2 linked regions of the Homo sapiens genome follow. The protein of the gene in region 2 purifies or fractionates together with the protein of the main gene of each other region. This does not show direct contact. Each region holds a gene or a part of one and is shown on either strand. Other genes may lie near its edges.

The links. Proteins that work in one complex are often made in the same cells at the same time.
Region 1: the proteins of MCF2L2 (region 2) and SFXN1 purify together in Homo sapiens (affinity purification with mass spectrometry, with the first as the bait; one large-scale study listed by BioGRID). This does not show direct contact.

What each region holds. Positions count from the first base shown.
Region 1 is NC_000005.10:175,481,560-175,485,059, reverse strand, and holds part of SFXN1 (sideroflexin-1), read right to left. Parts: intron 1-3,500. UniProt on the Homo sapiens protein: Amino acid transporter importing serine, an essential substrate of the mitochondrial branch of the one-carbon pathway, into mitochondria.
Region 2 is NC_000003.12:183,292,152-183,296,408, reverse strand, and holds part of MCF2L2 (probable guanine nucleotide exchange factor MCF2L2), read left to right. Parts: exon of another isoform or gene 1-263; intron 264-931; coding exon 932-1,109; intron 1,110-4,257. UniProt on the Homo sapiens protein: Probably functions as a guanine nucleotide exchange factor.

The DNA.
Region 1 (3,500 bases), on a different chromosome or scaffold from region 2:
CAGATAACATTTTAATTATTAACCGTGATGCCATGTTTCAATTAGGCAAGACTTCTTTCACGCATGAACTGACTTCCACCTTCAAGCTCAGGAGCAGCCTGCACTCCAGGTAAATTGATCCATTTTTAAAAAACAGGAGCCCCACTTAAAAAACAAACAAACATCAAAACTTATTTCCTATTCACATTAAAGTCAACAGCACTGAGCGTGGTGGTGCGCACCTGTAATCCTGGCTACTTGGGAGACTGAGGTGGAAGGACTGCTTGAACCTAGGAGGTTGGAGACCACACTGGGCAACATAGTAAAACCCGTCTCTAAAAATCAATGGGGTCTAGCAAGCGCGCTGACACGGAGCGCTCCTTACGCACGGGGCCTGGGCTGAGGAGGATGCGCCGAGACGCGCCCTGTGCTGGCTCCATTTTGTGTCTAGAGTCTATTCAGGGAGCGAGATGCTGGTATCCTTAAGGCCTTGGCCGCTATGTGGGGATCCCCAGGGTGCACCCTTTTCCACCCGCAGGGGTCAGGGCTGGCCGGGCCACTTGGTTGGTCCGCAGCATTCCGGCGTGCACCTGCTGGCCCCGGGCAAGGCAGAGATGCGCTGAGGGCATGTGCCCCGCACACCTGGTACTGACGGGTCAGGAGGGCCGGGTTGTGGGGCGGGACTGCTGCGGGCACCATCGTGGGGAGGGAACGAGGTCATGGGGTGGGGGTGATTGTGCAGGAATGGCCTTTGTTTTTCCATGGTCTGGCTTATGCAGCCATCCATCTGGCAAATTATGGCCCCTGGGCTTGTCTGGAAGGTTGAAACTGGGTAAAGATCAAACATCTCGTTACAGAGGTGTCTTGAACATCAATCACAGTCTTTCATGACCTAGGATAGGGACAGTGCTAGGACAGAGGCTTCTCGACTCCGGATTTCTGCAGACTGCGCTGGAGGAAGTCATGCTGCACAGCCTTGTGCTGACACTGGGAACAGGAATAATCATGAAACCACAGATACTTCAAAAGAAAGTTTTGGAGAACAAGATGTTTGCGTTCCCACTGCAGATGCGGCAAGGATCATGAAGAATGTCCCTCAGAGGGACACACTACACGGGACGCCAAAGAATGTGTTCCAGAGTGTGTGGGTTCATCAGCTTCACGGCACCTGAAGCAAGTGAAAGATGCCAGGGAGAGTGCGGAGACAGTCAGTGGGGAGGGTGCTCTCTTTGCCCTGTTCACCTGAGGCTTTGAGAGTTATGCAGAAGCGCTGGGGTGGTGCCTTCAGGCACTCAGAGAGGCTAGGAGACAGGGGAGCAGGCCCCAGTCCACCAGAGACACAGAGGGACCTAGGGAAGCTGTGGAAGAGGCGCTTACTGAGCAGTTATTAGCTGGCTTCAGGACTGCAGAAAGGCAGCAGCAAAATGTTATGGTTTACACAGCGGCACACTGGCAGGTTTCTCATGTCCAGCAAGCTCAGTTTTCACGAGCTGAAGAAATGGTGCAATGGGGTGTGGAGGGAAGAGAAAGGGGCTAGAACAGACGCGCTAGAAGAAAATGATTGGTGACAGACGGTCTCTGTGTATTGCACTAGCTGTAATGTGGCTTCCTGGTGCTCGGACAACTGAGGTGTTAATTCTAAGAATCTTTTTCATGAATGATTTTAAAGAAATTTTTGGATTTTAACGGTATTAAGAAATTTTGGTGGGGTATGAGAAAAAAGTGGGACTTAAAAAAATTCTGTGGTTGGCTGATGCCACTTATGCTAAGAAGAAAAATGACTTTGAGGTTTTATCACATAAAGACATTCTCACAATGATGTCGGCTACCTGGAACTGTTAATAATTATGACATTATACTGCATTTGAGTGAACAGATTATTTTAGAGATGATATATGTTGAAAAATTATTTTACCCCTAAAAAGAGACGGAAATAATTTCATAGAGAAATTAAAAACTGTTTAAATTCAATCTTTTAACTAAGGTTTTGAGTAAATATAGTTTCATGGAGCCTCATCCCAATAGATTTCTCAAAGTCTTTTTATTTATTCATTCACCAACAAAATTAACTTACGCCTTCCATATCCACTGAAGGCCTCTTATGTACTCAACACTGGCTTGGTCCTGGGTTTGGAAAGACCGAACACACAGCTGTTTTTTTCTGGCTGGTTTTTGCTGATGGAGGCCCCCCGCCCTGTGGTGTAATTTCCCGAGCATCTACCCTGATAACCTATGGAATGAGAACCGGATTTAAGCAAATATAATCTAGATTTCAGTCCTGATTCTATCATTTCCTTTCTAGACATGTGACTGGGTGAATTACTTTACACCTCTGAGCCTCAATTCTGTCATCTATAAAACACAGGTAAGAGTTGGCTCATAGAGTTGGTAGGATCAGCAAACTGAAGAGTATAAGAGGCCTTTATTAATCTTTATTAAGTTACCAAACAAAAGTGGGATCATTATTAACAAGCTGGTTTTCCACGAGTGGAAGCTCCTGTCCTCACTGGCCACAGTCCCGTGCATAAATGCAGCTCCTGGGGCCAGGAATGGCTCCTGAGCTTCCTGAAGATCATCAGAAACATGTAAGAAAAAGAATTTATCTCCAAGATAAATTTTATTTCAAATTTTTAGCTGCATGCTAAGAAAATGCTTAACTGCTGGAGAAAAAAAGAATTTTCCAAAATTTTGTAGAAAACAAGTTAGCAGGGAATGTGCTTTATGAGGAATTAGTACAAAGACCTTTAATCTTGGCTAAAGAGTACCAATGATAACTGCGTTATTAAGCTGGAAAGCTGTTGGTCAAAACTACCGTATTTTGAAAGAGTTATGAAAGGGTCTGATTGCCCAGTTTGTTTCACTAGGGCCAGGCAGGTGTGAGACAGCCGGTCAGTCACTGCTGTCCACTGTCCAGGGGACATGACGGAACACCCAGACACTAGGCTTTCCATGCATTGTTAGATTGCTAACTCCTTATGACAGCCCTCCAAGATCTTTTCCCCTGTTTTATAGAGCCGCTCGGAGAAATTTAGTACCATGCCCAAGATGACACAGCCTTCACAGTTCTGTCTGACTTTGAAACTCAATTCTGACCCTTGGAGGCCAGAGAAGATGTGTCTGCCAAGGACAATCACACTAACTCAAGGAGCCTAAAAACCAAATTCCCTGATTTCTGTTGGGCTGGTCATCTGCATATAGTGGCCTTTTTTATGGGCATGGCCACACAGGAGATCGAATTATAGATCAGAGAGTTGAATTCTGTGCAAAGCATTAGATTCATTCTATTTCCACTCAGCAATGGATTTGTGTTGCATATGCTTCCCTGTTCCAGGATAGTTCTGCATGGAGACGTTGGGCCTGCCTAGCATCAGGAAGACATGGAGAATCAAGGCCTCCTGCCTTTCCCACTGCCATGTTCTCCCCTCCCATGCAGATCCCACTATTCTACTAACTTTAAAACACCCATGTGCCAGGCGCGGTGGCTCACACCTGTAATCCCAGCACTTTGGGAGGCTGAGGTG
Region 2 (4,257 bases):
CAGACCAAAAGGTCAGGGTGCTGGAACCTAGAGAGCAATGGAAGTGTGTTTTGGGTGAGGTTAGAGAGAGGCAGGCAAGGTAGGCTTTGTGGGCCACATGAGCGAGTTTGGATTTAAGCAGGGAGATAACTTGATTGGATTTGCATTTGAGAAGCATATTCTTCCATGAAGCCAGCAGGGTTGTAGGTAGCACACCTTCCTCTGAGAGCCACATCATCACCTTGTCTGCACCTCTGGTTTAGGAGCTTCTTTTAATCAGCTTCCTGGGCACAAAGAAAGGAAGAGAAGATGCAGTGGAGGAACAAACAGATTATATCCAGCCTGTCTAACTGTTTGTGTAATTCTGGGGAATGCCCTGAAGTCCATCCATGGACTCAGGCCAAAATTCTTTGCTCTGTCTAACATGACACAAGCCACATTGTATTCTAATTGTTTGTTTGTTTGTTTATTTCTGAGATGGAGTCGCTCTGTCGCCCAGGCTGGAGTGCAGTGGCATGATCTCGGCTCAGTGCAACCTCTGCCTCCTGGGTTCAAGCGATTCTCCTGCCTCAGCTTCTCAAGTAGCTGGGATGACAGGTGCCAGCCACCACACCCGGCTAATTTTTGTATTTTTAGTAGAGATGTGATTTCACCATGTTGACCAGGCTGGTCTCAAACTCCTGTGCCAGGGTGTTCCAGGCACTGGAGACGCCATAGTGAAAGGATGTAGTCATTGTCCTCAAGGGTCTCAAGTAGGAGAGGCTAATCCTTAGATACCCAATTCTGGAGCATGGCAGGACCTGCAGCGACTTGCATAGTGATGCCCAGAGGGGGTCACCTGAGGGAGGTAGGGATGGGGGGAGTAGGGGAAGGTGGGAGAAAGGGAATGCTTCGTGTCCTCAGGCTGTATACAGAGAGACCTGTTCATCATGATTTGCTTTTGTTACTGTAGGCCAAAGCCCAGAAAGTTTTGCAGAGGCTGGATGATGTCCAGGAAATATTTCACAAGAGGCAAGTGAGTCTGATGAAACTGGCAGCCAAACAGACTCGTCCAGTGCAACCTGTGGCCCCACATCCTGAGTCTTCACCAAAATGGGTGTCATCAAAAACCAGCCAGCCCTCCACCTCGGGTAGGTTATTTGAGGAAAAGAAGCTTTGTGGCTTTTGTGTTTCATCAGCACCATGAGGACTGTGACTGGTTGTCTACAATGGATAATGGTCGCTGTTTTAACAGATACTATTTAAAACAAACTACAGATATAGCATAGTGCAGACATGGAAGACATAAACACTTAGATAACACCAAGTGCCTGGATGCAAGGAGAAACACACAATCTACTGAAGGAATAATAAAAATGCATCATAAAGGCCGGGTGCGGTAGCTCACGCCTGTAATCCCAGCACTTTGGGAGGCCGTGGCGGGTGGATTATCTGAGGTCAGGAATTCGAGACCAGCCTGGCCAACATGTTGAAACCCATCTCTACTAAAAATAGAAAAATTAGGCTGGGCGCGGTGGCTCACGCCTGTAATCCCAGCACTTTGGGAGCCTGAGGCGGGCAGATCACGAGGTCAGGAGATCGAGACCATCCTGGCTAACACGGTGAAACCCCATCTATACTAAAAATACAAAAAATTAGCCAGGCGTGGTGGTGGGCACCTGTAGTCCCAGCTACTCGGGAGGCTGAGGCAGGAGAATGGCGTGAACCTGGGAGGCAGAGCTTGCAGTTAGCGGAGATGGCGCCACTGCACTCCATCCTGGGTGACAGAGCGAGACTCCGTCTCAAAAAAAAAAAAATATATATATATATATATACACACACACACACACATACACATATATGTATATACACATATATATACACACACACACACACACATACATATATATACATATATATATATAAATAAATTAGCCTGGGCATGGTGGCGGGCGCCTGTAATCCCAGCTACTCAGGAGGCTGAGGCAGGAGAATTGCTTGAACCCGGGAGGCAGAGGTTGCAGTGAGCAGAGATTGCGCCATTGCCCTCCAGCCTGGGCGACAAGAGCAAAACTCTGTCTCAACAACAACAACAACAACAACAAATGCATCATAATAATAACATAATAATAACAGCATAAAATAGACCCCATTCAGGACCTTTAAAAGGCCCATGTTTTATTAGCAATGGAGTAGTAAAATTGGTTCTTTGAGCAAAGATTTAAAAAATAGGTAAGTTCTTATGCCAATCCCACATGGTCCTGATTACCATAGCTTATTAGTCAGCCTTTAAGATCAAGTCATGCGATGTTCCAACGTTGTTCTTTTTCAAGGTTGTTTTGGCTATTTTAGGTCCTTTTCATTGTTCCATAAATTTTAGAATCACCTTTCAATTTCTGCTGGGATTATGATAGGGATTACACTGGATATATGAGCTAATTTGGAGAGAACTATTATCTTACCAATATTGACTTTTCCAATTCCTGAATATGTTATAACTTATGTTTTTTAGGTCATCTTTAATTTCTCTCAACAATGCAGTCGTTTTGAGTGTAAAGGCCTTAGGCATTTAACATTTTTTTAACCCTATAATGAATGGAATTTACCATATATAATTAAGAATAGGAATAGATTTCTATATAGAAATATAATCCTATCATCTGTGAATAGGGATGCTTTTACTTTTTTCTGTTTCAATCTTTATACTTTTTTTCTTGTCATATTATAATGACTGGGACCTCCACTACAATGTCAAATAGAAATGGTGAGAGCAGACATCTGTGTGTTTTCCCAATATTAGGAAAAGAGTTCAAGTTTCATCTTTAAGTATGATGTAAGCTATAGGTTTTCCACAGATGTCTTTTATCAGATTGAGGGAATTCTCTTCTATTTCTATTTTTTAGGAGAGTTTTTATCGTGAATGATTATTGAGTTTTCAAATGCTTATTTGGTCCATGTATTGAGAGAATGATATGGTTTTTCTTCTTTATTTGTTAATATGGTAAATTACAATGATTTGTTTTCAAATGTTAAAACAACTGTACATCCTTGGAATAAACTGCCCTTGGGCAGGATGTACATGTCATTTGTTTGTGTCGTGTATTGTGGACCTCTGTCATTAAGCACATACATATTCATGGTTTTTATGTCTTTCAGATATATTAGCTCTTTTATAATTATGAAATGTCTCTCCTTCCCTCCTTACCTCTAGAAATACTCTTAAAGTCTATCTTGTGCGATATTGTCACAGCCATTCCAGTTTTCTCATGCTTAGTGTTTGCAGAACATATTTTTTTTGTTTTCTATTCTTCTGTCTTTGTATTTAAAGTATATTTGTTGTAGGCAGCATATAGTTGGGTCTTGCCTTTTTATACACTGTGACCTCTGCCTTGTAATTGGAGTGATTAGATTTTTATGTTTACATCCATCATCATTATTGATATAGTTGGATTTAGAGTTCCTGTTTTGTTATCCTACATGTCTCATGTGCTTTTTATTCCTCTTTTCCTCCTTTCCTGCCTTCCTTTGGGTTAGTAAATATTTTTTAATATTTTGTTTTAATTCCTCTATTGGCTTGTTATCATATCTCTTTGTACTGTTTTTCACCAGACTGGGGATTACCATATGCATCCTTAACTTGTCATGATCTATTGAATTAGTTTCATACCATTCTATGCAAAATATAGGAAATCATACTACATACTACAATGTCATACTTCCATATGCTCCCCATCCATCCTCTGTGCTATTCTTATCATAAATATCACATCTATATATGTTAATCCCCCACTATGGTATTATAATTTTTGCTTTAAATAGTCATGTATCAAATTAAGAGAAATACATACGTGTGTGTGTGCATGTGTGTGTGTGTGTGTGTGTGTGTGTGTGTGTACATACCCCCTTATTCACCATTTCTGGGGTTCTTCATTCCTTATTATAGATTTGAATTACTATCTTGTGTCATTTCTCTTCGGAATAAAGAGCTTCTGTTAGTATTTATTGTTGGGGAGTCTACTAGCAACAAATTCTTTTCTTGTCTTTATTTTTTCCTTTTTGTGGAGAACGGGGTCTTGCTATATTGTCCAGGCAGGTTTCGAACTCCTGGGCTCAAGCTATCCTCCTGCCTCTGCCTCCCTAAGAGCTGGAATTACAGTTGTGAGCCACCATGCCTGGCCTGTTAGCAATAAATTCTTTCAGTTTTTGTTTATATGAAAATTGTGGGGTGTTTTGGTAATTCTCCATTTAGTACAATTTACGATCCCTTGTCTTCCACCATGTATCCTACTTTTTAGAAGT